Regions from separate parts of the Homo sapiens genome. Here region 2 is linked to region 1. Evidence: fine-mapped expression QTL. A gene starts in region 1. The other region holds a variant in brackets. All regions are shown on one strand. Distances are from middle to middle. Region 1 holds the start of SULT1C4 (sulfotransferase family 1C member 4). Region 2 overlaps LIMS1 (LIM zinc finger domain containing 1).

Region 1 (2,919 bases):
TTCAACATTTCCCTGTTGCCAAGCATTAAATAAGCTGTTTTATCTCCCCACAACCATGAGGTAGATAATGTTAAGATCCCCAATTCAGACCTGAGGAAAAGCGTGATATGAAACAGAGAAAGATTCTGTAACCTGCCATTGCCCACAGCTACTGGGACTTGGCACAGGGTTCAAATACAGGCAGCCTGACTTCTCTCTGAAGGATGTCAAGCCACAGCCACCATACTCACCTAGTCCCCACATAATGATGGCCCAAGGAACTCGCTTCCTCAATTTTTGCTTAGTTTTACTCATTCATTCTTTCGAGAAATAGAAGAATGCCAGACACTAGGCATACAGCTATCAAACAGTGAGAAAACAACAGGCCCCATTTCATGTGCCTTAGAGTGTAGTGAAGGAGACAGAAAATGCCAACAAGTAAACACGCAAAAACTAACTGTCAATGGTTGCTCTAAAGGAACACAAAGTGCCATGAGCAAGGAAATAGGAGGGACCTACTTGAGATGACATAGAAAGTCAAAGAAGGCTTCTCCAGAAAGGGGGCATCAAAGCTGGGACACGAAGAAAGAGAATCAGACAGCCAGACACACAAGAGCCGACAAGATCTCCAGAAGGAGTGCTGCCATGGGGAGCAAGTGTGGCATGGCCCTGGGGTGCAGGCCAGGCCGGGGGCAGGGACTGAAGCAAGTTGTGAAATTTCTGATTATCAGGGGCAGAATGGATTCCTAAGGCAGCCACTGTCTTCTGTTAACTCTGGAGTTTTCTGCATCCCTTTTGCTTTAAATGAGGCATACATGTTTTCATAGCTGTGATGAAACCCCTACAATTCTCCAGTTTAGCATTATTTATTTTACTCTTAAAAAATAACAAAGCTGACCCTGGCAGATGTTTGTACTGGGAGATTCAGATCCATCCAGGCCCCCACTGTTAATAGCCCACGGGAAAGTCCCTGCAGTCTCTCAGGGAAGTCATTCTGTGTAGAATCTGTAATTTCACAGGCAAGTCCTGCAACTTTTTAATTGTTTAAAATTCCCAGAAGGAATAATTACTGAAATTATCTATGAAGGGTTTAATGGACACAGACATGAGAGCTATAAACAATGTGATACTATGTCCTGTTAACTCACAGAGAACGGAAGGGCTGGAACGGGACCCAGCCAGCAGGGTTTGTGACCGCCTCTGCTGTGACGTCACAGCCTGGTGAGGAGGGGGCTGCAGTTCCTCAGGAAACTGCCAGTGGACAAATTCATAAACAAGAGCTCCAGTTCCCTGGAACCTGAGTCGGGAGACCTGCAGCTCACTTTCTCCCTGTTTGCTGGCCAGCAGGGTTTGTGGCCGCCTCTGCTGTGACGCCACAGCCTGGTGAGGAGGGGGCTGCAGTTCCTCAGGAAACTGCCAGTGGACAAAGTCATAAACAAGAGTTCCAGTTCCCTGGAACCTGAGTCGGGAGGCCTGCAACTCACTTTCTCCCTGTTTGCTGGCCCAGACAGGCCTGTGCTAGAGGGCTGGATAGTGTGGTAGTGTGGTGGATAGAGTGCTGCCTCTATCCACAACGCAGCCATATGCTGACTGAAGATAACTTTGTGTCTGGAAGAGCCCTCTGATTTCTTACACTAATGGCCTTACACGACATGGAGGATTTTACATTTGATGGAACAAAGCGCTTAAGTGTCAACTACGTGAAGGGAATTCTTCAACCGACAGACACCTGTGACATCTGGGATAAGATCTGGAACTTCCAAGCCAAGCCTGATGACCTGCTTATTTCTACCTATCCTAAAGCAGGTAGGTGGAAGGGCTTGCAGGGGAAGGGGAAGAGGAGAGTTAGGAAGGTAAGTGGAAGTATGCATTAGTCATGAAATAAAGAAGTTGATCTGGAAAACTCTGGACAGAGTGATATGGCTAAGGAAAGTTACTAGTGGAAACTGAAGCTATACCGAAACATACTAAAATGACATACAAATTTTTAGAATTCAATCTTCCTATGATACTATGATGTACTTCCTTTTTTTTTTTTTTTCACTTTCCCAGGAGAGAGTGAAAACAGTTAAGAGCAAAAGGGTAGACTTGTTTATTTATTCATTCCCAATCTAGGCCCTTATTGTAGATCTTGTAAAAAGCTGCTTTGAGTGTGTGAGCTAGAAAGGTGATCCTGAGTCTGATTTGGGAAAGAAATAGGGGAGCTTTGGTTCTGCAATGCTGATATCACCTCAGCAGCCCTCCCATCTCAGGGTCTGAGAACCATCCTTCTGATTTCCACCTTCCTTTGTGGTAAGTTTTGAACCAACTGCCTTATCTCAACAATCAGTTTAACAAAGTTGTCTGTAAAAGTAGGACTAGCTTAAGCCGAGCCACCACGTCATAAAAATTGGGTGATGATGAGGTGGAAATAGTTCTCTATAAATATTTTTGCATATCTACATATCTACTAGAAATACATTACTGGGTCCACACACAAATTGTATATACATTTGCTCTTTGCAAAATCAAGCTGTCAAAAACTCTTGTTATACACACACAAACACACACACATCAAAAAATCTAAACCTCAGTATTTTCTGAGACTGTTCAAAATCCTCTTTTGTTCTTATCTCTCAAGATCCTGACAGAAGATTCTGCAGGCACATGGAGGCCTTGGTCTCTTCTTTGTCCATCTGTTTCATTTTGGTCCTGATTTCCCAATCTTACTCATCAGGAGCCCATTCAGGATCAAATTTTTCTGAATGTAAATTTCTAAAAGTAGCCACTGGTGAGGATCACATCTCATCATCTTAATTTCATTGACAATTCCACTTGATTATCAATTCAATACATAAATAATCTTTTCTCTATCTGCCAAACGCAAGTACAAAGATATGGTTCATTTAGGTTTTTCATGGCATTAATGAGGTTTAAGCAATTCAAAAAGCACACTAAGAA
Region 2 (2,919 bases), 300 kb after region 1:
CCATGCATGGCTGAACTACCAATGGGGGATGTACCTAGATGGAGTTTCTTAAAAATCAGTCATATTAGGGTTGGAACACATTTTTCATGTGGCTTGATTCTGCCCCGTGAAGCACAGGAGTGATTTTTTTAAGAAATGGTTTGTTTAATTTCTTTTCAGAGATAAGGGAAGCATATTTCTTTTTAACCATTAGAAAGAACCTAAAATTTTAAATTTAAGTTTTGACTCTGTTTAGACACCTGTGTCGCCCCTGTCATAATCGTGAGAAAGCCAGAGGCCTTGGGAAATACATCTGCCAGAAATGCCATGCTATCATCGATGAGCAGCCTCTGATATTCAAGAACGACCCCTACCATCCAGACCATTTCAACTGCGCCAACTGCGGGTACTGGAATTGTTTCTTTTTTATTACACAAGCAGTGGGAATGAAAGATTACATTTATCTATATTTCTGTTACTCTAGCAAACCAAATTGTTTTTCTCCAATTTTTAGTCTAGAAAATTTTAAACCTATAGACGAGTCAAGAGAATGATATAATGAAACCTGTATACACTTAATTTCGTTTCACCAGTTGACATTTTGCCATGCTTGTGTGTATACAGTCCACATTCTCGTTTCACCCTCCTATGTATGTGTGCACGTGTGCCTGTATACGCATACCTCTAAAATTTCTCATGAGTCCCAGTATGCGTCTCCTGAGAATAAGAGCATTTTCCTATGGAACCACGATACTTTTTGTAAATTTTTTTTTGCCTTGAGACAGGGTCTCTCTCGCTCTATTGCCCAGGCTGAAGTGCAGTGGGCAATCAGAGCTCACTGCAGCCTCACCCTCCTGGGCTCAAGCAGTCCTCCCACTTCAGCCTCCAGAGTAGCTGAGACCACAGGCACACACCACCCTTCCTGACTAATTTTTTTAAATTTTTTGTAGAGATGGAGCCTTGCTGCGTTGCCCAGGCTGGTCTCAAACTCCTGGGCTCAAGCAATCTACTCATCTCAGCCTTCCAAAGTGCTGGGACTATAGGCATGAGCCACTGCACCTGGCCAGAACCACAATACTCTTATTATGCCTAAGAAAATTAGCAATAATCTTATAATATCAACTATCAGTCCATATTAAAAATATTCCCAGTAGCCCCAGAAATATTTGTCATCACTATGTTTTTCCAATCGAAGATCTAAAAACAAAAAAAGGTCTTATCTCTGTACATGCATAACTTTTACAGTTGTAATAATTAGGTATTATCTTAAAAGATGTTGTTACATTTATTTAATTTGGCTTGGTTTATATCTAAAAGAAATATATTTAATTTTTTGTCTTCAATAAGTTATGATAAATTGTTGGGCTATGAATTTTTCTCAGTTTGCTGCCTAGTATAAAAATTTAGTGGATAAAGATTCTTGGCCGGGCGTGGTGGCTCACACCTGTAATCCCAGCACTTTGGGAGGCCGAGGCGGGCAGATCACGAGGTCAGGAGATCAAGACCATCCTGGCTAACACGGTGAAACCCCGTCTCTACTAAAAAATACAAAAAAAATTAGCCGGGCACGGTGGCGGGTGCCT[A/G]TAGTCCCAGCTACTTGGAAGGCTGAGGCAGGAGAATGGCAGGAACCCGGAAGGCGGAGGTTGCAGTGAGCTGAGATCGCACCACTGCACTCGAACCTGGGAGACAGAGCGTGACTCCATCTCAAAAAATAAAAATAAAAAAATATTCTTTACTGTAGTTAATGTGAACTTACTTGCTAAATTATAGTAGGGATGGAGAAGAAACAGTAAGCCAAATACTAAGAAAACAGTTTGGGCCAGGTGCAGTGGCACACGCCTGTAATCCCAGCACTTTGGGAGGCCGAGGCGGGTGGATCACGAGGTCAGGAGATCGAGACCATCCTGGCTAACATGGTGAAACCCCATCTCTACTAAGAATAAAAAAATTAGCCAGGCGTGGTGGTGGGTGCCTGTAGTCCCAGCTACTCGGGAGGCTGAGGCAGGAGAATGGCATGAACCTGGGAGGTGGAGCTTGCAGTGAGTGTGGATCGCGCCACTGCACTCCAGCCTGGGCAGCAAAGCAAGACTCGTCTCAAAAAAAAAAAAAAAAAAAGAGAAAGAAAGAAAACAGTTTGGTTGTATAAGTTCAGCCATCTCATCTTTTGTGATTGAATTATCAGTTTGTGCCTTATCTCGTTTTCTTGCCTGTCCTTCCTCTTGGGGATTCACCTCTGTCCACTTTTCATTAGCATCTCTCCTAGAGAATTACATAAAAGGGATGAAATTCAAACAAGTCCGTTTGACTAATTGGGACCATCTCTGACCAAATGTTTATTGATGCAGGAGACTGAAAATAATATTTAATTTGAGTATTTGGAGAAGGAAAATTCTGGGCATTTTGTTGTTTATGAAAATAAACCTATTAACCTATAACTATTTTCAACAGCTTGTGACAATTTAAATAATTGTTAGTAAATGGAACTAGTCTCCCAACTTCTCAGTTTGCTTGGAAAGGTCGTGTGTTAGTCTATTTTATGCGCCTGTAACAGAATACCACAAACTGGGTAATTTGTAACCAACAGAAGTTTATTTGGCTCATGGTTCTGGAGGCTGGGAAGTCCAAGATCAAGGGGCTGGCATCTGGTGAGGACCTTCTTCTGCATCATTACATAGCAGAGGGCATCACATGGTGGGGGAAGAGGAGGGGGGAAGGAAGAGAAGGAAGGAGGCTGAACTCGTCCTTTTATAAGGAACCCACCCCCTCAGTAACAGCGTTAATCCATCTGTGAGGGCAGAGCCTTCATGATGTAATCACCCCTTAGAGGTCCTACCTCTCAACACCTCAGAATTGGGGATCATGAACTTTGGGGACACAGTCACACCATAGCAGATAGTATTACTGAGTCTACCCTCAGCACTGTGATTATTCCCTGTAGCT

Evidence for each region. PIP is the estimated chance that this variant, and not a neighbour inherited with it, causes the effect.
Region 2: its variant is the best candidate, but not a certain one, in a credible set for the expression of SULT1C4 in lung (TOPMed, PIP 0.55).

Annotation. Positions count from the first base shown.
Region 1 is chr2:108,376,722-108,379,640 of GRCh38, forward strand. SULT1C4 (sulfotransferase family 1C member 4) reads left to right here and starts at 1,233. Exons shown (of 7, transcript NM_006588.4): 1 at 1,233-1,785. The coding sequence starts at 1,617.
Region 2 is chr2:108,672,645-108,675,563 of GRCh38, forward strand. It overlaps LIMS1 (LIM zinc finger domain containing 1), which reads left to right. Exons shown (of 10, transcript NM_001193483.3): 5 at 236-385. Among named protein-coding and RNA genes, the nearest start is that of LIMS1-AS1, 4.5 kb to the right of the region's middle. The variant A/G (reference allele first, on the strand shown) is at 1,563.